Homo sapiens: one gene and its partner. The gene in region 1 interacts genetically with each later gene. Each region holds a gene or a part of one and is shown on either strand. Other genes may lie near its edges. The genes, in order: SIVA1 and FOXP3.

Region 1 (11,799 bases):
GACATGGGGGCCCTAAGGCAACACGACCAGCGTCCTAAAAAGACTACGTGAAGAGAAGGACACAGAGAAGGAAGACGACATGAAGATACAGGGAGGGGGCAGCTGTCTACAGGGAACACCAAAGATAACCAGCAGATGCCAGGAGAGAGGCCAGGACAGGTTTTCCATTGCAGCCTCAGAAGGAACCAGCCCTGCCAGCACCTTCCTCTCAGACTTCTGGTCTCCAAAGCCACGTGGCAGTACCTCTTTGCTGTCTATGCCACTGGGTCTGCGAACTCAGTTACAGCAGCCCTAGCTGATTCCCACTGCCGATCAATCCACATGGGGCCCAACCTGGGTTTCCAGTAGGATAGAAGCTCTCCAAAGAAACCTCCAGATGACCTGCCAGAATTCACCGAACCACAATGGTTTACACTGAAGCACATCAAACAGTGCTTTTCTGATATATCAAGACTAAGGGTAGGGCCGGGCATGGTGGCTCACGCGTATGGTGTGGCTTACCTCAGCACTTTGGGAGGCTGAGGCCGGAGGATCACCTGAGGTCAGGAGTTCGAGACCAGCCTGGCCAACATGGTGAAACTCTGTCTCTACTAAGAATACAAAAATTAGCTGGGCGTGCTAGCGCACGCCTGTAACTCCAGCTACTTGGGAGGCTGAGACAGGAAAATTGCTTGAACACAGGAGGTGGAAGTTGCAGTGAGCCAAGATCGCACCACTGCACTCCAGCCTGGGTGACAGAGCGAGACTCCGTCTCAAAAAAAAAAAAAAAAGAAAGCTCTAAAGGTAAAGGCTAGGGAACCCGGCAAAACACAGGGAGAAAGTGATTAAGAGAGATGTTGCGAGGAAACGGGACTGGCAATGGCTACCCCAAACACGACAGGGCCGTGGAGTCAACAAGGCAGCCAGAACTGCTTGCCACTTGGTTTGCAGAGTTTGCCAGTAGTATTGTGGGTGAGCCGCGAAGACAGCCCCTCACCGCCACCGGCAGCCAGCTGGAGAGCCCTGCAGAGGACGGGCCAGGCGTGGGCCAGTGCAGGCCATCAGCAGGACGCCAAAGGCTGCTGGGCTGCATCTGTGTTAAACCAGAGCCGTGTGGACAGATCCCTGTTTTCCCCCACTCCTGCGACGCCTGGTCCTGAAGTAGGAAATGGCAGGGGAGGGGGTAGGAGACTGCGGGTGCCACCAGCTGGGCTGCCTGGCCTGGGAATGCCACTTCTGGCTTGTGACCTGGAACAAGTCATTTATTTGTGAAAGAGGGCAGAGCCCACCTCCTGTGCTGTAGCTGCGATAAAAGAGTGTGTCCACAGTGGGGACAGTGGCCCACTCAGCTCAACGTGAACTCTGTGGGTATGGGAGGAAGCAGCAGCAGAAAGTAGGTAGAGGCCAGGAGGAAATGGGCGCAAGGGAGTCCCTCAAGGATGGTGTGCAGGGCAGGAGTGGGAGGCCAGCCACGCAGCGCTCTGGGACCCACCTCTCCGCTGAACCTGCCCATGGCTATGTTCACTTCTGCTTTGGTGAGAGGGCCACCAGACAATGAGAAAACCCTGCCCTTTTCAGTTTACTTCTAGGAAAGAAGATGAACTCAGCGGGTGAAAAGCAAAGACAGAGTATCCCACATTCATAGCTAGCCCTGCAGATGATTCCCAACCTGGATGGGGTGCGTTACCCCACTCCTGCCCATGCTGAAGCCATGGGAGCCGATCACTGGCACGCGGCGCTTCTCCCTGGTGCTGCCCCCCCTGCCCAGGGCTCTCCGTCTCCAATGAGTCTGGGCCTCTGCCCCGACTGAAGAAAGGCTCGAGAGAAAGGACTCGAGATGTAACATGTGGTTTCTATTTTAGATGGACAATTTCAGACATTGTTTGGACTAAGCTTGCTTTGGGTCTATGGAGCCAGTTCCACATGTGTCTGGATGAAGTCATCTTTCTCACGGGGCAGGGCAAACAGGCTCCACACTGTCCACTCCCATCCACCAGGTGAGTAGCCCCTAGGGTGAGAACGCCCCTCCCCACCTTAGGAGTAAGGACGGGATCCAGCCAGCTGCAGCAAACCCACCCACAAATGGGAGACTACACAAACACTCCACTTCCTGCCTGAGAGGGTCTACAACCAAACGGCACGCATGACTGTGGTGAAGCTGCGGTGTGCACCTGTGTCACCAACCAGGGGCTCCTCGGACGGGGGGAGGGGGGGCTCAAAGACCAGAGGAGGAGGAGGTGGGGGTGCTCAAAGATCAGAACAGGAAGTGGCTGAAGACAGGGACTAGAGCCGGATACAGAGCAGGTCATCTGTGAGGTTCAGCTTTCCCTTAGAGAGGATTACTAACCACTAAAGTTGGGCCAAGCATCTATTGCCACCATGTCCCGTTAGGCAATGCCAGATGGCACTGCATCAGGGGCCACACGTGTGTGTTCTGGGCCCACATGGGTGACCCACCCGTCCCCCATCACGGCTTGCTGGGGCTATGGGATCTCAGCAGCTCCAGGGACTGAAGTACTTACTCCACGAGGCCACACAGGGTACAGGCCACGGAGCCGCAGCCCCAGCAGGTGCGCACACACTGCCCGCACAGGGCTCGCTCACACTGACCGCAGACCGCCTTCCCATCCACGGCTCGCACGCATGAGGAACAGGCAATGGACGCTACCCCAGATGGGTCTGTGAGGAAGAAACGCCAAGCCGTCAGGCTGCAAGGAGACTGGAGTTTCCGGGACTGCCGGGCTACCTGCCTCCATGCATACCTGAGGGCAGAGGGCTCTGACCTGCCTACCCCATCCCCACCTACACTGGATCCTTCTGACAACCCGTGAGCCTGGTACAGTGCACAGGACCCCCGTTTTACTACAGAGATCCAAGGTGAGATATGCCTGTAGTTGACTCCAAGTTCAGTGCTCTTTCCCTTACCAGGTCCCTCTGCTACCTGGAGGCTAGTGCTGGAAGGACCATTCTTCCCCTGTTGCTTGTCAGAACTCCATGTGTCCCATCTGGGTCTCAGTGTGGCCCACTGCCTTACTGGTTAACAAAGAGGTGCCTGGGCTCCTCCTAGACACACCAACCAGACTTGAGGTAGAGTCGGGGATTGCATTTCTAACCAGCAACACAGGTGATGCTCTGAGACCCCACACTGCATAGGGATGGGACTGGCATGTTTCCAGCCTTGTGGGACTATCTGAGGGGGCTGCAGGCGGAAAGCAGACGGGATACCCGGGGAGTCTCTGCTGCTTTTTTGGCCCAGTACTTAGAAGCTGTTTAACAACTTCCAGTCTTGAATGTGAGACCTCCTGATAACAGGAGCCTTCTGAGCCAGAAGGCCAAGCTCTGGGTCAGAGTCCTGCTTACCCAGGGAGGAAAAGCCTGACCTTGCAAATCAAGAAAAATGCTCGTGCCACCACCTGCCCTCAGTGCCACAGCCACAAAGGGCTGCTGGTGCCACTCACCAGCTTCGGAGGCCTGCCCAAGGCTCCTGATCAGGCGGCCGTCTGGTCCAATCAGCATCTGCCCACGTGCAGCCCTCGGGGCCCCTGTAGGGCCAGGCTTTGGGGACTCTGGCAGGTGAACGACGGCACAGCCTTCATCCCACACGTGGTCCAGGTAGGCCTGGGCCCCGAGGAACAGGAGTCGCTTGGTCTTCTCTGGGGGAAGATAAATCATTCTCACGTCCTTCACTGTGTACCAACGAAGCCCCTGCATGGCCATTGAGTCTTTCTAGCCTCACATGAACCCCATCGTCCTCCTGTGTGCCCTCTGTCTCCCAGTAACCCCAGCCTGTGTTGTGCCCTGGCGAGCTGGGTCCTGCTCTGCCTCTATGCTGAGAATGCTTGTGCGTCCTTTCCTTACCTGGCTTAGCTGTCATCTCCTCCAGGAAGGCTCTGGCCCTGCAGCCCCACCTGTGTCTGATGCAAGGGTTCCCTCTCCTATCACTCGGCTCATTTTCTGCAATTCACGGCTGGCCTCGCCTCACTAAGCTTGTCCCCTTTCTCCCTTTTCTGCTTCCCCAGCACTCCCCACCTGGAAACCAGGCTCTGTGGAATGCACAGAGGGAGCTCTGCACTGTGGAGCACTAATTCACAAAACTCGTCCCCTGCCAAGGAAGCAGCCAGAGGCTTGGAGCTGGGCCTACAGCCTCTGGCCAGAGCACACCCCCTTCACCTGCTACAGAGTTGCTGGCAAGACAAGCATCCCAGAACCTTCCAGACCTCTTGTTCTAGAACACCCACCCATCCCTGGGAGCAGTGGTTTTCCATCAGGCCACAGTTCAGTCACCTGGGGAGCTTTGAAAAATCAGATGCCCAGGGCCAGACCCAGAAATGCTTTGTTTTTTGTTTTGCACCTCACCATAACACAGTAAAGGCAGAGATCCCAGAAACTCTATGTGGCTCTACATGAAGTGGGCAGCAATAATAGTGACAGGGTAACTCACATGGAGTAGCTGATGCCAGCCCACAACACCCTGCACCTTCCTCCTGGCCCCCCACACCTTCCCCCATCTATAAGGGGAAAGGAATGGGACAGACACGTGGTGAGGCTAATCCTTGTCCTCAAGGCCTTGTGGACAATTCGAGGTTAAGAGATCAGGGTAACAGCTGTGGCCTGGAATTTGGAAACTGTCACACAGTTCAAAGTAGGTGTCCTGCATTTACCATGGAAGGCCCACTGCACCCAGCAGACCTCCCTGACCTGACCCGGTGAGTGGCACACACCTGCCAACGCCCAGGTCAGGACACTCGGGAAGAATAAAGGGCCATACTGAGCCAGGCCCCATTTCCATCTTCCTCTTCTTGCCTGCACAGTGTTTGAATTTTTCAACTGTCCTGAGAGGGCACACGATTGCGGTCCTGCCACAGTTCCCACGGCATCATTCCCCTTACCTCCCCATGGCCCAGAATAGCACTCGCTTTCACAGCCCTAGCACACTGGAGACACCGCACAGAGGAACCTCGGGAGGCAGAGTCTTTCCCTCATTCCCAAGGCACAAGCGGCACCAGGTAAATCACACACCCCGGGTCATCCTCTAACTGCTCTACAGGTGCAGACTTTGTGTCCCAATCACTAGGCAAGGTAAGCTCCACTTTTTACCTGCCCCAGGGTATTAATCACCCCAGTCAGAGTGATGATCAATAAGATCAACACGCCTGAAATCCACAGGAGAAAGCCAGAGAAGGCCTGGGAGCTCACTGCCCTCACATCCCACCCAGAACTGGACACTGCAGCCACACGGAGTCCTATTTCGCTCTCCTGCTGCCTGGCTTCTGCCTCGCCCTCTTCCTTCCCTTCCTCTGCCTGGCTAACTCCTACTCGCCCCCACAGGATTCCGCTCAGACTGTTCTTCCAAGAAGCCTTCCGTGCCATCCCTGCAGGTGCGCCTGCACAAACCTGTGCCTGCCCCGACCACCTGTGGCGACTCCTCCTGCTGGTCTCCCCAACTAGGCTGGGGAGCTCCCGGGAGACGGGGCACATCTGTCTTGCCTGCCTTTGGTCTCCCGAGAAAGCCGCCGTGCCTGGCAGGGCCGCGCGCTCCATGAATACCTCTTGGGACAGGAGGGGCACTCTTCGGGTTGACTCCATGCAGGACGCCCCGCTCCCCAACCTCTCCCAGGACATCCTGCACGGGACAGTCCTGAGAAAGCACCAGGCGGGTGCCGCTCACTGCAGGGCGGCGACTAACCGGGATCGTGGAAGAGGGCGCGGGGGCTAGGGGCAGGGACCCTTTTCTTTCAGGCTGTTGGACAGGGTGGGCGAACGCTGGGGTCCTCACATCCCCCTCACTGACCCCAGCCCTGGGCGTGGCCAGCTTGTGTCCCCGCGGCCTCCCAGCTTCCGGGAACGCGGGGCCAGAAAGCAGGGCCCTCCAGCCCCCCGCTCAGGCCTCAGAGGGGACGCTGAGGCCCGGCCCGTTCCAGGCCCCGACGCAGCGGACCCTCGGCAGCCCGCCCGACACTCACCGAAGACCTCCTGCGAGTAGCGCTCGGCGCACACGCCGCGGCTCAACTCCCTCTGGCTCACGCGGACCTTGAGCTGTAGCGGGGCCACGTCCGCGAAGGGGCAGCTCCGCTTGGGCATGGCCGCGGGGCCGGGAGCTACGCAGCTCCCCGGCCGCCAGCCCCTTACCAACGACGCCGTGACGTCACAGCTGCGCGCCCATCCGCGGGCGAGAGCGGGTTTGAGGAGAGGGAGCGACGCGGCGCGTCATAGGCTGCGGGCGAAGTGGGAGGCGGGACTCCTGCGCGGAGCGGCGCGGGATAGGCCGAGGGAGAGATCGGGGGTGGGACTCGTGCGTCGGTGTACTGGACTCGACGCCGCGGGAAAGGCCAGGGGCCAGGTTGAGGATCAGGGTGGGCGGGTCCGTGGGAGAGATTTGTGCGCGCGCCGCTCAGGATAGGCGGGAGGAGAGACTAGGGGCGGGGTTCCTATGCGGCGCGAAGCGACGAAGGGTGGGAGCCAGGTCGCGGCATTCGGCTGCGCGGGAAGAGCCAGGGGGCGGGGGCGAGGCCGAGGGTCAGGACGGTGCAACGAGGGCGGAGCTTGTGCATCGGGGGCGGGCCTCGTTTGAGGATCGGCGTGGGATAGGCCAGGGCGACGTCGGGGCGGGTCTAGTTTGAGGAGCGGCGCGGGATAGGCCAGGGCAAAGTCTGGGGCGGCTGGGTCGGTGGCGGGATTCCTGTCAGCTTTTGTTTGGTTCCTAAACGGTAGACACTGGTTATAGTTCCTCATTTACTTCTCCGAAGTTAAGAGGCAGCCCGCTTCTTCCTAGCTCTTTTTTCCCCTTTAGAGACAGGGTCTCGCTCTGTCACCCAGACTGAGTGCAGTGGCAGTCTCGGCTCACTGTAGCTTGCGCCTCCCGGGCTCAGGCGATCCTCCCTTCTCGGCCTCCCCGGTAGCTGGGACCGCAGGCGCGCGCCTCCGCGCCCCGCTTTTTGGTTTTGGGTAGGAACGGGGGTTTTTCTGTGTTGCCTCAGCTGGCTTAGCTCCTCACTGTGGCGGTCTCCGCCTTCCAGAAGTAAAGGCGTGTGGGGGCTGCGCTCTGAGGGCCGCGTGCGGCTGCCGAGCGCCCCCGGGCGGGGGTATGCGCCGCTGTGTGGAAAATGTTCTTGCACAGCGGGTTCGTCTGACTTGGTGTCCCCATGCCGCGAGGTGCACCCGCGTCGTCCCTTCTCCGGGGTTCTGCTCACCAGAGGCGGCTCTCCCCTGCCCCGGCGGGTACAGAACCGACCCGTCCTGTGGCGTGGGCTTCGCCCTGTGAGAGATGACAGCGTGCTGGCAGCCCTCGCTCGCTCTCGGCGCCCACTCTGGCCGCGCTCGAGGGGCCCTTCAGCCCGCCGCTGCACTGTGGGAGCCCCTCTCTGGGCTGGCCGCGGCCGGAGCCGGCTCCCTCAGCTTGCAGGGAGGTGTGGAGGGAGAGGTGCGGGCGGGAACCCGGGCTGCACGTGGCGCTTGCGGGTCAGCGTGAGTTCCGGGTGGGCGTGGGCTCGGCGGGCCCCGCAATCGGAGCCACCGGCCCCAGGCAGTGAGGAGCTTAGCACCCGGGCCAGCAGCTGCGGAGGATGCGCCGGGTCCCCCACCAGTGCCGGCCCGCCGGCGCTGCGCTCGAATTCTCACCGGGCCTCAGCTGCCTCCCCGCGAGGCAGGGCTCAGGACCTGCAGCCCGCCATGCCTGAGTCTCCCCCCTGCCGTGGGCTCTTGCGCGGCCCCCTGCTCCGCGGCACCCGGTCCCATCGACCGCCCAAGGGCTGAGGAGTGCGGGCGCACGGCGCGGGACTGGCGGGCAGCTCCACCTGCAGCCCCGGTGTGGGATCCACTAGGTGAAGCCAGCTGGGCTCCTGAGTCTAGCGGCGACTTGGAGAACCTTTATGTCAAGCTAAGGGATTGTAAATACACCAATCAGCACTGTGTTTAGCTCAAGGTTTGTAAACTCACCAATCGGTACCCTGTGTCTAGCTCAAGGTTTGTAGATGCACCCATGGGCACTCTGTATCCAGCTAATCTGGTGGGGATTTGGAGAACCTTTATGTCTAGCTGTGGGATTGTGGACGCACCAGTCAGCACTCTGTGTTTAGCTCAAGGTTTGTAAATGTACCAATCAGCACTCTGTATCTAGCTAATCTGGTGGGGACTTGGAGAACCTTTATGTCTAGCTAAGGGACTGTAAATACACCAATCAGCACTCTGTGTCTAGCTCAAGGTTTGTAAAGACACCAATCAGCACCCTGTATCTAGCTCAAGGTTTGTAAATGCACCAATCAGTGCTCTGTGGGGACTTGGAGAACTTCTGTGTCTAGCTCAGGGATTGTAAACACACCAATCAGCGCCCTGTCAAGACGGACCAATCAGCTTTCTGTAAAACAGACCAGCCCTCTGTAAAATGGACCAATCAGCAGGATATGGGTGGGGCCAGATAAGGGAATAAAAGCAGGCCGCCCGAGCAGGCAGTGGGAACGTGTTGGTGTTCTGCCACATGTTTGGGGCTTTGCTCTTTCACTCTTTGGGTCCACACTTTTTATGAGCTGTAACACTCACTGGGAAGGTGTGTAGCTTCACTTCTGAGGCCAGCAAAGCCACAAACCCACCGGGAGGAATGAACAGCTCCAGACACACTGCCTTAAGAGCTGTAACACTCCTTGTGAAGGTCTGCAGCTCCACTCCTGAAGCCAGCAAGACCGTGAGTCTGCCAGAAGGAACAAACTCCAAACACGTCCAAACATCAGAAGGAACAAACTGCAGACATAACAATTTTAAGAACTGTAACAGTCAACTGTGAGGACCTAGTGCTTCATTCTTAAAGTCAGTGAGATCAAGAACCCACCAATTCTGGACACACCTGGACTATGTTCTCACGACTCCATCGGTGTTGCCTCCGGTGTGAAGAGGTGATGCCTGGAGTCCCGCAAACCCCTCCCACGTGACTCCCGTGTTGCAGCTGCCCACGCCCCCTCAGAGGCAGTGTATGCTTTCCTAGCCATGGGTGGCTGAAACCTTACCAGTCTCCAGCTTAGATGTCCTTTCTCCTCCTGCCGTGCAGGGTTCCCTGTGGTGGGGATGGGATCAAGCATTCTTGGCTCTTCCTTGCCACTTTGCTGGCATAATGGAGAATTTTTTCTGCCTTAGGGAAATGACTTGAAAGTTACTCAGTTGGAGTCACGTGTGACTAAACACAGATTTGGTTTATCCCAGAAATAGATGAAGTTCTCAGAGAGGAGGATTGTTTTCAATCTTATGGATCGTGGGGATTTCTAAAGATTTCCCTGTGTTCAGACTTGCAACTCTCCTAGGGTCTCATCACCATCGTGGACAGATACAGAACATCGGGCAGCTTATGGAGTGGGGCTGTCCCCCAGGCCACATGCCGGTTCCTCAGAGGTTGCTGGGTAGGATTCTGCTGCTTTAACAAACTTGCCTGGCTAACACCACTGGCTCACCCTTGAATGCCTTCCTGGGTGAAGCCATGAACCCTCCAGGGTTAAGCCCCAATTTTGGGGCTCACCTGCCCTGCATCAGATTGATGGTTAACTTGTAAAGAAACTGGCAGCTTTCCAGAGTGCTAGGAAAAAGGAAAATTATCATTAAACAAAATCATTGTCATAGTTTTCCTCTAATTCGTCTTGAGGTCTCTCCTGGAGAGTGGCTGTAAACTTTGGCCCTTCCCTGATGGGGCTCTGGGGGCGGTGGGCATGGGGTTACAGTGTGTGCTCTCGTGGGATGCCTCCTGACCCTGGCTGATGGCCTCAGGCCTGTGTATCCAGCTGTGCTGGCATTCCTCTCACCAGCAGCTTGCTTCTAGGCTTTGGCAGGCAGCCTGTGGCTTTTGTCTGAGCAGTGATCAGTTCATTCCTATCATGATGGTCTCTCTGGGAGAGTCCTGACCAGGAGAGTGAGGTTTGGGTGCAAGGGTCAGGTGAGAGCTGGAGGAGGCAGCACAGCAGAACACATGAAACTGCAGAGCAGGTGTGTGACTCAACCGGGCGGGAGCGAGGAGGCAGCGTTCCTCACAGGCCAGTGGGGAGGGGGAGCCACGGGGAACAGGCAGGCCCAGCCAGATGGTGGGGAGCGAGCCAGCGGCCTGTGCACCAAATCTGTATTCAGGTCCAGGGTGTTGTTACTCAAGTGCATTTCCTGTGGGGTGTGATTTCGAGCCGGCAGGCATCAGCTTCATGGCATCTTGCTGTGACTGGGTGGTGGTCACTGTGGCACGTCTGCACAGTCCGTGAGGGGTGTGGGGGCCAGGGGCTGAGTCCAGTAGGTTGTATCCAGGTGTCCCATAGGGAGCTGGTCACCAGCTGGCAGGTGTATAAAGCAGAGATCTGGGTGGACCACCCTGGGCAACTGGGAGGAGGTGAGGAGCTAGAAACTGTCAAGAATGACTGAGCCCTGCTTCTGTACCAGAAAGTCCCACTTTTATTCAGAATGGATGCCATTCTGAATAAATATTGTCATAAAATGATAAGAATTCACTACAATTATCACTAATTTGTCTTTTACCCATGTATTCAACAGAGACCACTCTGACCCCATCTACACTGGGGCTGTGTTATTGATGAAAAGTGGAGAGAGCCCCTTACTATAACCACTCAGACCCTCCAAACATCTGCTACTGAGAAGAAGGGGGTGGAGACCCGAATGATTGACCTGCCTGTCTGCACTAACCCACCGCTCAGACGCCAGAGCCTCTTGTCTCTGGTTCACGTGGAAGTGAGTGAGTTGGTGCTGGGGGAGAAGTATTTCCCCTCTGCGTTGGTGTCTTTTTACCCTGTGAAACGCCTGCCTTCCATCCCGAGAGGAAAGAAAACGATGACAACTTGTGTTCTGGTGGAAGATTTAGCAGCTACTACAAAACAGAGGTTTGAAAACCTATTTTGCAGCTCTCAAATTTCAATTTAGATGACTTGACTTTGAGGGCCCAGTGTAGATGTGAGGGCTGAGTAGAGAAAGCCCGCAGCCCCCTCTCCCCAGGAGCTTACCCCTGCCTCGGGGCTCCCTTTTTGTCTCTCTTGCTGTGTTATGAAAGGAGAGCATCTGGGAATACTCAAAGGCTGGCTTCTGCCTGTGTGTCCCACCCCATCTCAAGGTGGCTAGTGCTGCTGAGGGACTCCGGCCTGAGGAAGGAAGCGCCCGTGGCCTGGGGCAGAGCCGTGCAGTTGCATGGCTTTCCTGCCGCTCAAGTCACTGAGGGCTGTTCTTGGTACTGTCTAGAAAAGTTGCTTGCATCCCTGGAGTCACAGGAATCTCATAACCCAGCCTATGCCCCCAGGCCCCTGCCGTGTCAGTAGAGCCTGCTGAACTTCCTGGGCTAGCGAGACCAGCTGACAGCCACAGTGCTCAAAAGTCAGGGTCTAACCCCGCCAGACTGGCGTCTCTGTAGGATTCCCTGTCTTTGAAAGGATACTGGAAGGGCAGTTGTTTTTCTAAACTTACTCCGAACTCTGAGCCACTGCACCTGGCCTTAATATCATTTTAAAAACTAAACACGCTGGCGCGGTGCCTCCCACCTGTAATCCCAGCACTTCGGGAGGCCAAGGTGGGTGAATCATGAGGTCAGGCGTTTGAGACCAGCCTGGGCAGCATGGTGAAACCCCATCCCTATTAAAAATACAAAAATTAGCTGGGCGTCGTGGCGGGCCCCTGTAATACCAGCTACTCAGGAGGCCGAGGCAGGAGAATCGCTTGAACCTGGGAGGCAGAGGTTATGGTGAGCAGAGATCGCGCCACTGCACTCCAGCCTGGGTGATAGAGCAAGACTCTGTCTCAAAACAAACCATATTTAATTGACTTGGTCTCTTATATGGGCTTGTTCTATTTAATTTTCTG
Region 2 (11,153 bases), on another chromosome or scaffold:
TATCACATTGTTGAAATTTGCATCTTGTGATTACTTTTACTATTCATTGGCCATTCATGCTTTTTTTTTTTTTTTTTTGGTTGTCTGGTCATGTCCTTACTCCTAATAGGGTGTTCATCTTATTTTTCCCTTATTGATTTGCCACAGCTCTTTATTTGGAATGGTTATTAACCTTTCATCAGCCATTACATATATAGCAAATATTTTCCCCAATTCATCATTTGCTTTTTTTCTATTTGTTTATGGTGTTTTTTGTGATGCTTATGATGGTTTTATACAGTCAAATAGGTTAGTCTTTTTTTCTGTGGCTTCTGTCTCTGGTTTTGTGCTTAGAAAGTCCTTTCCTACTTGAAAATGAGATAAATGTTCACCTATGTTGGCTTCTAGTCTCTTTTATGGCTTCATTTTTTCCATTTACTATAGAGGTTAAGAGTGTGGGTACTGGAGCCAGACTGTCTGGGACAAACCCAGCGTCACCCCAAGCCCTATGTGTGATTTTTAGCCAGGCACTTAACCTCTCCATACCTCCATTTCCTCATATGTACTGCAATGGTTATAATAGTACCTTCCTCAGGAGTCTTTGTTTAGATTAAAATTTTTAACCACAGTAAATACTTAGCACAAGGCCTGACACACAATAAACCCAAGATCAGCATTAGGTGTTAAAACTTATATCTTGAATGGATCTGGGCATTTTAGGGTATATGATGATGGTGACATTTCAAACTGGGCAGGGAGGGGTTGTTGGGATAATGGACTGACTATTCACTCAATAACTTTATCTTCTCCCTAATTATCTCAGACACATTTGTTAAACCATACTCCATGGTCCTCCAGTTTGAAATGCCACATTCATCACAAATTCAGTTCTCTCCATATGTGGGTCCATGTCCAAGCTTTCTATTCTGTTCTCTTCCCCAGTATCTGTTCTTATACCAGGGCCACACTGTTTTGCTGATTGTTGCTTTGCAATACAATTCAATACCCAGCCATGGGTGTCCCTGGCACCTTGCCCTTCTTTATTCTTGATTATTTCAGGCAGCATCAGTTGAACCAGCCAGAGACCAGCAAATGTTCTTATTTGAGGCAATCCTCCTCTCGCACACATGCACTCTGGCTCTCCATGCATGTGTCCATTTCTCTCAATGTCTCTCACTATCTCTTGTTCTCTCTTGCTCGCTCTTTGTGTGTGTCTCTTTGTCTCTATGTATCCCTATCTCTCAGCCAGTCCCCTGGATAGAGGGGCAATTGTCAACTTGAAGCCCTGCAGACACCTAATGACTTAACCAGACAGCGTAGAAGGGCCCTGGCCCTTGTCTACTCCACGCCTCTCCGTGCTCAGTGTAGAAGGGCAAATTGAAGACCAGAGATCTCAGGGCCTCACCGAAATGCAGCGGCAGAGTTGAAATCCAAGCCTAGATCTCAGGACTCTAGGTGGGACCCTGGTTCTGGCTCTCTCCCCAACTGCAGGCCTCAGTTTACCCCTCAGCACCCAGAAGGGGGAAGGGGAACCTGGGCTACCATTCCCCCTTCTGCCTTCTCACACGTTGGACCCCAACTTCCCACAGGTTGGACGATCCACGATCACAGTGTGGGGCCCAGCCTCACAAGAGCTGGGCTAGGTGAGGCCCCGGACTCCATAGGTCAGGAGGCCTAGTTGGCCAGAGCGTGGTGATGATGGAGGCATGTCAGTCAGTCAGGCTGTGTGTCCCCAGAGCTGGTGCTGGTCCCCGAAAACCTTGATTGTGGGGCCCCTCTAGAGAGTCTGATGATGGGCTCTGTATTGGCGAAGGCTGAGGCTTTTCCAGCTCCCCCCATGAGGCCCAGACCAAAGGCACACCAGCCTCAACCTCCTCCTCCCCCTGTTGCCATCTCTGGCGGAGTGGCCATGTATTTGGGAACGTTGTTCCAGAGTGGACAGGGAGACTGAGGCCCTAGGGAGGCTGGCTCTGTTTCCAGGCCTGGTAGGCAAGAGGCCCTATGAAGCAGCAAGCTGCCTGACTTTCAGATGGTTCCAAGGAGTTTGGACACCAGGGACACTGGCCTACACATACTGAGACTTTGGGACCGTAGACCCCACAGTCTGTGGTTTTGAGATTCTAGGATCCTTTAAATCTAAGAAATGCTGTTCTATGATTCTGAGGTCCTGGTGTTATACTATTTGAAGACCCCAGGGGTCCCAGTATCTGTGGAGCCTGCCTGGCACTCTCAGAGCTTCAAACCTGGGTCCTCTCCACAACCCAAGAAGGGCCAGGTCTTCAGAGCTAGGGGCTTGTCATAGTGGCCAGATGGACATCACCTACCACATCCACCAGCACCCATGTCACCCCACCTGGGCCAAGCCTGCTGCAGGACAGGGCAGCCAGTTCTCGGAACGAAACCTGTGGGGTGGGGTATCTGCCCTCTTCTCTTCCTCCGTGGTGTCGATGAAGCCCGGCGCATCCGGCCGCCATGACGTCAATGGCGGAAAAATCTGGGCAAGTCGGGGGCTGTGACAACAGGGCCCAGATGCAGACCCCGATATGAAAACATAATCTGTGTCCCAGAAACATCCCCCATTCAGCTTCTGAGAAACCCAGTCAGAAAGGGACGTCCCAACAGACAGTGCAGGAAGCCGGCTGCCCAGCCCGGCCCTCTAGGTCCTCTACCCCCAGACAGATCATCTCCATGTCCCTGTCTGAGAATGTATCTATGCTTTGCTGAGTCAGGCCATCCCACATGTGTTTGGGGAGAATTCTTAGCTCTGGCCAAGTGTCCAGGCAGCTTCAGAAGTGACCACAGGCCAGCCACATGGGCCAGGCCAGAGTGGTGGAAAACATCCATTTGCACCGAAATCGGTATTAGTTTGTTCTGGCTGCTATAACAAAGTACCACAACTGAGTGGCTTCAGCAACAGAAATTGATCATCTCACAGTTCTGGAGGCCAGAGTCCAAGATCAAGGTGTTGCCAGGGTTGGTTCCTTCTGGGGGCCATAAGGGAGAAGCTGCTCCAGGCCTCTCCCCCAGCTTCTGGTGGTTGCTGGCAATCTTTGTTATTTCTTGGCTTGAAGGAGCATCACCCCATCTCTGGCTTCATTCATTCACTCACCTTCTCATCTCACCAGTGCTCTCCCAGGCCCTTGTTCGGAGCCTCCACAGACCCACACTCCTGTTTCTCACGCAGTAATGTTCTAAGCCCCCAGGAGACTAAGAACTTAATACCTGGATTCTCACACTCATCTCCCTCAGCACCACAGCTCTGACAACCACCCCCAGGAGGTGACAGCAAAGAAAGGAAGGAGCAACTGCTCCCCCAGAACCCTTCTATACTCCCCCGGGCTGCTCTCAGCAGCTGTGTGCCCAACTCAGTGCTGTGAGGTGGAACGGGGAGATGGAGACACACACACACACACACCAGAGAGTTTATAAAATGTGCACACGGAAACACTTCCTAAAGAAAGAAGTGGAGTTCTCAAGTCACTATGGGACTACGGAACTCGGCATCTGAGCATCCCCTTCTGTATAATGGGGTTGGCTGGGCAGTCCCTTCCAGCTCTGGCTTCCTCTCAGACCAGGATTATAGGATCCTGAAAAGCCAGTGCTTCCCTCAGGGAGTGGAAGGTTCTGGGGCTCAGCAGGGGGCCCGGAGCCATTGTGGAGGGCTTTCAAGGTGAGGACAATAGAAGAGCAGGTCTTGCGTGGCTTGGACAGGGAAAGAGGAGAAGGAGTGGGCATTTGAGGCAGGGGGTGTAGCATGAGCCAGGCTTGAGGGCCAGAAATTGGGGTGAACTCTGATGGGGGCTGGGTAGAGAAGCTTCTACAGGCCCCAGCTCAAGAGACCCCATCTCTCCTCCTCTCTGTCACTTGCCATGCTGGATCCGTGCATGATCACACTCCTGGACTCGCCTCCTTGCCCTGAGATCCAGACCCCCGTATTCAGCTGCCCCCTCAGCTCCTCCACTCACATATTTAATGCCAGACTCTTCATGTCTATCTACACCTGCACTTTTGCACCCAATCCAACTCCCCGCCATGTCCCCCATCTCAGGTAATGTCAGCTCGGTCCTTCCAGCTGCTCAAGCTAAAACCCATGTCACTTTGACTCTCCCTCTTGCCCACTACATCCAAGCTGCTAGCACTGCTCCTGATCCAGCTTCAGATTAAGTCTCAGAATCTACCCACTTCTCGCCTTCTCCACTGCCACCAGCCCATTCTGTGCCAGCATCATCACTTGCCAGGACTGTTACAATAGCCTCCTCACTAGCCCCACTCACAGCAGCCAGATGAATCTTTTGAGTCCATGCCTAGTCACTGGGGCAAAATAGGACTCCGAGGAGAAAGTCCGAGACCAGCTCCGGCAAGATGAGCAAACACAGCCTGTGCAGGGTGCAGGGAGGGCTAGAGGCCTGAGGCTTGAAACAGCTCTCAAGTGGAGGGGGAAACAACCATTGCCCTCATAGAGGACACATCCACACCAGGGCTGTGCTAGCGTGGGCAGGCAAGCCAGGTGCTGGACCTCTGCACGTGGGGCATGTGTGGGTATGTACATGTACCTGTGTTCTTGGTGTGTGTGTGTGTGTGTGTGTGTGTGTGTGTCTAGAGCTGGGGTGCAACTATGGGGCCCCTCGGGACATGTCCCAGCCAATGCCTGCTTTGACCAGAGGAGTGTCCACGTGGCTCAGGTGGTCGAGTATCTCATACCGCCCTAGCACACGTGTGACTCCTTTCCCCTATTGTCTACGCAGCCTGCCCTTGGACAAGGACCCGATGCCCAACCCCAGGCCTGGCAAGCCCTCGGCCCCTTCCTTGGCCCTTGGCCCATCCCCAGGAGCCTCGCCCAGCTGGAGGGCTGCACCCAAAGCCTCAGACCTGCTGGGGGCCCGGGGCCCAGGGGGAACCTTCCAGGGCCGAGATCTTCGAGGCGGGGCCCATGCCTCCTCTTCTTCCTTGAACCCCATGCCACCATCGCAGCTGCAGGTGAGGCCCTGGGCCCAGGATGGGGCAGGCAGGGTGGGGTACCTGGACCTACAGGTGCCGACCTTTACTGTGGCACTGGGCGGGAGGGGGGCTGGCTGGGGCACAGGAAGTGGTTTCTGGGTCCCAGGCAAGTCTGTGACTTATGCAGATGTTGCAGGGCCAAGAAAATCCCCACCTGCCAGGCCTCAGAGATTGGAGGCTCTCCCCGACCTCCCAATCCCTGTCTCAGGAGAGGAGGAGGCCGTATTGTAGTCCCATGAGCATAGCTATGTGTCCCCATCCCCATGTGACAAGAGAAGAGGACTGGGGCCAAGTAGGTGAGGTGACAGGGCTGAGGCCAGCTCTGCAACTTATTAGCTGTTTGATCTTTAAAAAGTTACTCGATCTCCATGAGCCTCAGTTTCCATACGTGTAAAAGGGGGATGATCATAGCATCTACCATGTGGGCTTGCAGTGCAGAGTATTTGAATTAGACACAGAACAGTGAGGATCAGGATGGCCTCTCACCCACCTGCCTTTCTGCCCAGCTGCCCACACTGCCCCTAGTCATGGTGGCACCCTCCGGGGCACGGCTGGGCCCCTTGCCCCACTTACAGGCACTCCTCCAGGACAGGCCACATTTCATGCACCAGGTATGGACGGTGAATGGGCAGGGAGGAGGGAGCAGGTGGGAGAACTGTGGGGAGGGGCCCCGAGTCAGGCTGAACCACAGCCCACATGTGCCCCCCAGCTCTCAACGGTGGATGCCCACGCCCGGACCCCTGTGCTGCAGGTGCACCCCCTGGAGAGCCCAGCCATGATCAGCCTCACACCACCCACCACCGCCACTGGGGTCTTCTCCCTCAAGGCCCGGCCTGGCCTCCCACCTGGTAACACCTCAGCCCGTACCCCATGGCTTCACAGAACCCCCAAGTCCCCAGATCCTTGGCTGTGAGCAGTGTAGGCTATTCTGAATTGCAGTACTCTGGGGGTCAAAGGTGTCAGGTCTCAGAGGCTTGGAAACTCCACCCTCCAAAAAACGTCAGGTGCAGAACCTTAAAGATGCAGAATGTCAAAATCACAAAACCACAGAGCTTTACAAAGCTAGTCAAAATGTCAGCACCTGCGAATGGCCGTCTTTAAGCTTCTCTGCCAGAAGCCTGGGACTTTGGGGACAGCAGAGCCCCCTGGGAGTCAGGGTTTTCGAGGCTCAGGAGGGTGGGAAGCTCAAAATGAGAGGCCTTGTGGGCCAAGCTCCAGAGCCCAGCCCACAGCCTCCATAGGTGCCCTGTCCCCACCCACAGGGATCAACGTGGCCAGCCTGGAATGGGTGTCCAGGGAGCCGGCACTGCTCTGCACCTTCCCAAATCCCAGTGCACCCAGGAAGGACAGGTCAGTGGACAGGGCTGGGAAGGATCCTCGCCCTCCTATCCCCTCCCCTGACACCCTCTGTCCCCCCAGCACCCTTTCGGCTGTGCCCCAGAGCTCCTACCCACTGCTGGCAAATGGTGTCTGCAAGTGGCCCGGATGTGAGAAGGTCTTCGAAGAGCCAGAGGACTTCCTCAAGTGAGTGGCCCAGGCCTGTGCCAGTCTACCGGCCCTGGCTTGTGGGGAGAGGTCTAGGGTGCAGATCTCAGCTCAGGCTTCATCCCAATAAGTAGTAAGATGCAAGAGCTAAACTCTGAGACTGTGGGTTCAAATCCCAGCTCCATCCCTGACTGGCTGTGTGACCTTGGACAAATTACTTAGCTTCTCTCGACCTCAGTTTTCTCGTATGTATAATAAGAAACGTTTGTGCTGTTATTTACCCCCATTTTACAGACAAGGAGACTGAGGCCAAAGAGGTTAAGTGTCTTGATCAAAATCTCCCAGTTCCTGAGTGACAGAGCTGGGATTTGAACCCATGTAGCCAGGCTCTAGAATCTGCACTCCTGCTTTGCCCTGCTACTCCTCATGCCAACATGCCAGCCTTATTCCACTGTTCCCAAAGTTCTAGCTCCTCTAGATGGCTGCTGCTGCCTCCCCTCAGTCCCCCCATATGTCTCTCTCTCTCTCTCTCTCTCTCTCTCTCTCTCTCTCTCTCTCTCTCTCTCTCTTTCTCTCTCTCTCACACACACACACACACAAATACACACCACACTACACACAACCCTTAGCAGCAACCCCACATGTCCTGTCCTCCTTGCAGCCAGGCCTTTGCACAGGCCGTCCCTCCACCCAGAATGCTTTGCCCACTCTCACCTCCCTGGCCCATTCTCAACTCACCACACTTCCAACATTATCTCCAGCACTCTGGCCAGGCTCAAGTGGTGAGTTCAGGCCTGACATGCAGTAGGTGCTGAGGGGCATGTGTTAAGGGAACGAGGGGTGTGAGAGGGAGACTGAGGTAGAGAGGGGAGGGGAGCTGGGGCTCAGAGGAGAGAACTCCCAGAGGGTCTGGGCCCTCCCCATTCAGAGCATTGAGCCAGACCAGGCCTGTCGTGGTCACCTGCATGGAATCTTCTCCCTACTTAGGCACTGCCAGGCGGACCATCTTCTGGATGAGAAGGGCAGGGCACAATGTCTCCTCCAGAGAGAGATGGTACAGTCTCTGGAGCAGCAGGTAATGCCAGGGCGGTGGAGGGTAAGGGATAGGGATAGTGCGCAAAACCTTCTGTCCACCATGTGCCAGAAACCAAGTTCACCTGGGACGAGGGCTGGTATAAAGGAAGGAAGAGGAGCGGGCACTCCCAGGGAAGACCGTAGCCTGGGCAAAGATGTGGCAGAGAAGGGCCAGGCTGAGGCCTCATGTTTGTGCCATTTCACAGCTGGTGCTGGAGAAGGAGAAGCTGAGTGCCATGCAGGCCCACCTGGCTGGGAAAATGGCACTGACCAAGGCTTCATCTGTGGTGAGCGACCCCAGGACTGGTGGTGGCAGACTCAGACTGCTGGGGGGCAGGGAGGAGGTCTGCACGGTGCAGGGAACCTAACCTCACATTCAGGTCCTGAGAGCTAGGGGCCCCTGTCCCCAGCTCCAAACATGCCCAGACCTGGAAATCTGTCCCCTTCTACTTACAAACCCTCTGACCCCGGCTGGGCGTGGTGGCTCACGCCTGTAATCCCAGCACTTTGGGAGGCCGAGGCGGGTGGATCACGAGGTCAGGAGTTCAAGACCAGCCTCGCCAAGATGGTGAAACCCTGTGTCTACTAAAAGTACAAAAAATTAGCCAGGCGTGGTGGCAGGTGTCTGTAGTCCCAACTACTTGGGAGGCTGAGGCAGAGAATTGCTTGAACCTGGGAGGCGGAGTTTGCAGTGAGCTGAGATCATACCACTGCACTCCAGCCTAGGCGACAGATCAAGACTCCGTCTCAAGAAAAAAAAAAAAAAAAAACCCTCTGACTCTAAGATCCCCAAACACTGTGATCCTGAGTTGTTAAAGCAAATGCAAATAGCCAGACTTGCCAGATGCAGGCTGTGTGCCAGCAGGACCAGCTATGTAACCTGCAGGGCCCCTTGTTCAGATTTCAAGATGGCGACCACAGAGCATTAAACAAAGCACAGGGTGCCACATAACCACATAGGTCACACGCCCATGAAGCCAGCCCTGGAGGCCAGGCACTGTTTCTGAGCGCTTTGCTGGTGGTAATTTATTTCTCATGATGCGAATGTACAGATGAGGAATATTGAGGCCAGGGGGGTTTAGGTGACTTTCCCAAGGTCACAGTTGGGTGGTAAAGAGCCCTATTCAACCCCAGTTCATGGTCCCAGCATCAGTGGCCACATACGACATCCGCACCTGTGCTCTAATAAATACGGCTCATGCTGTTTTGTGGGATTCCACCTCAGACTGGAATTTAGAAGAGGGCGTCCTTGCTTTGAAAAACACTGATTTAAAAATAAAGTGGAGCCAGGCGCAGTGGCTCATGCCTGTAATCCCAGCACTTTGGGAGGCTGAAGCGGGTGGATCACATGAGGTCAGGAGTTCGAGACCAGCCTGGCTAACATGGTGAAACCCCATCTCTACCAAAAATACAAAAATTAGCTGGGCGTAGTGACGGGCACCTGTAGTCCCAGCTACTCGGGAGGCTGAGGCAGAAGACTTGCTTGAATCTGGGAGGTGGGGGTTGCAGTGAGCCGAGATTGCACCACTGCACTCCAGCCTGGGCGACAGAGCAAGACTCAGTATCAAAAAAAATAAAAAACATAAAATAGAAAGTAAAAAGTGGGAAGTTTAAGCCTCTGGGTCACCAGCCTCTCCCCCTCACCCAGGCATCATCCGACAAGGGCTCCTGCTGCATCGTAGCTGCTGGCAGCCAAGGCCCTGTCGTCCCAGCCTGGTCTGGCCCCCGGGAGGCCCCTGACAGCCTGTTTGCTGTCCGGAGGCACCTGTGGGGTAGCCATGGAAACAGCACATTCCCAGGTAAGAATGGTCCTTGCACTACACGGTGCCCCCAAGCTCCTAATCCTGACAGGCTCTGGGTGGAGGGTGCAAAGGAGCTCCATGCTGCCCCTTCCCACCACCACCACCACTGCAGCTGCCGCCACTCAGCCTTTGGGAAAATGCATCCGCTCACAAAAGCTTCCTTTCGGGATGTCCGTGGCCTGAAAGCCCCCCATATGGTCTCGAGTGTCGGGCCCCTAGCCCTGACTCCCTTGGGGATTGGGGCCATGCCTCACCCACTCTGGACTCCAGCTACTATATTCGGCCATCAGAAGGGAGGGACCCTGCTAAGTAATTCCAGGAGCACCTCCTTTCCTCCCCTGACCAAGGAAAATCGGGGTGGATTCGCCCGAGCTCACCTATCCACTGCTCTCCACCAGGCCTGGCCTGTGGGCTTAGCAGGGATCAGAGACCTTGACTGTCATCCTGGCTCTGCCATTTAACCTCTTGCATCCTTTGGTGTGCAAGTTACTCCGCTTCTTTTCAACCTCGGGGAGAACTATTTTGGCAGAAGTGGTGCAAAGAATAAATGATACAACTTATGTCAGGTGCTCAGCAAACAGTACCTGTGCCCGTGGACACGGGTGTTGACGGTGAGATCTCAGGCCTGTAGACTCACCTTGTAGGGGGAGGGGACAGGGAGCTAGCTAGGAGGTCCTGCATGGGGCTTGATTCATCCCCACCCTCTGACAGAGTTCCTCCACAACATGGACTACTTCAAGTTCCACAACATGCGACCCCCTTTCACCTACGCCACGCTCATCCGCTGGGTAAGCAGGGCAGCTCGGCCCCAAGGAGGAGGAAGACAAAGATGGGGTGGGGGACCTGCCTCCCAAACTCCTGTCTCCCTCTGAGTGCCCTCAGAGTGGGTTCCTCCATTCCCAAGCCCCAGCCCCAAGGATCCCCAAGCCGTGCCTCAAATGTGACCCCTCATGCTGGCTTCACCCCAAACCTGTCCGCAAATCCAAACCTAAACCACCATCCAGGCCAGAGCATGCCAAATTCTGACCCTAAACCTACCCCTTTCCAGATGTCCACCTCAGCCCCATACCTAACCCTCTCCTGGACCCATAAAATAGCCTAAAGCTAACCCCATCTCTGCACCTTGCCCTAAACGTACCCCAGCTCTTACTCTAACTCCTTCCCCAGCCTTTATGCCAACCCAACCCCATCTCCTTCCCTGGCCCCAACGTACCCCAGTATGTCAATACACCCCCAACTGGGCACCATTCCCAACCTTTCCTTGTAACACCCATTTGATCCTTAACTTCATCACCCCATCCCAACTCCTTCATCTCAGCCTCCCCAATGCCTTCTCAGAACCTTCATCCTAGCGCCACACCTAACCCCAAACCTGAACCTCACCCCTACATGATACCAGATATTCCCCGACTGTCTCTGAACTGAAACCCTGACCTAGCCCCATCCTGACTGATAGCCTCACTGCAATCATCATCGCTGACTCTGTAATCCCATTCCTGAATCCAAACTGATCAAATTCCCTGACCCTCAGCCTCACTCCACACCGAACCCCACAACTAACCTCATCCTTGCCCTGAGCCTAACCACCTAACCATGTCCCTGACACGTAAGATACTCGATAATTCAAACCATCTCTGGCTTCTGACCTAAAGCCAAGTCATCCCATCCCTCACCCCTAGACCCCCCACCTGAGTCCACCCCAGCCTGACTCTTAACCCACCCCTTCCCTGACCCTTAAGTTGGCCTGGCCCTTTACCCCTTCCAAATCCTTGACCCCACTTCTGACCCTTCACCTTCCCCAACCCTGAAATGTCA

The links.
Region 2: of SIVA1 (region 1) and FOXP3, changing one enhances a phenotype caused by changing the other (phenotypic enhancement), as found in Homo sapiens cells (one study listed by BioGRID).

What each region holds. Positions count from the first base shown.
Region 1 is NC_000014.9:104,747,463-104,759,261, reverse strand, and holds the start of SIVA1 (apoptosis regulatory protein Siva), read right to left. Parts: upstream 6,116-11,799; 5' UTR 6,061-6,115; coding exon 5,943-6,060; exon of another isoform or gene 4,791-5,942; intron 3,633-4,790; coding exon 3,438-3,632; intron 2,857-3,437; exon of another isoform or gene 2,659-2,856; coding exon 2,502-2,658; exon of another isoform or gene 1,842-2,501; intron 44-1,841; coding exon of another isoform or gene 13-43; exon of another isoform or gene 1-12. UniProt on the Homo sapiens protein: Induces CD27-mediated apoptosis. Inhibits BCL2L1 isoform Bcl-x(L) anti-apoptotic activity. Inhibits activation of NF-kappa-B and promotes T-cell receptor-mediated apoptosis.
Region 2 is NC_000023.11:49,252,099-49,263,251, reverse strand, and holds part of FOXP3 (forkhead box protein P3), read left to right. Parts: intron 1-4,724; 5' UTR 4,725-4,746; coding exon 4,747-4,956; intron 4,957-5,483; coding exon 5,484-5,588; intron 5,589-5,686; coding exon 5,687-5,825; intron 5,826-6,239; coding exon 6,240-6,327; intron 6,328-6,396; coding exon 6,397-6,501; intron 6,502-7,449; coding exon 7,450-7,537; intron 7,538-7,742; coding exon 7,743-7,823; intron 7,824-9,184; coding exon 9,185-9,335; intron 9,336-10,049; coding exon 10,050-10,126; intron 10,127-11,153. UniProt on the Homo sapiens protein: Transcriptional regulator which is crucial for the development and inhibitory function of regulatory T-cells (Treg).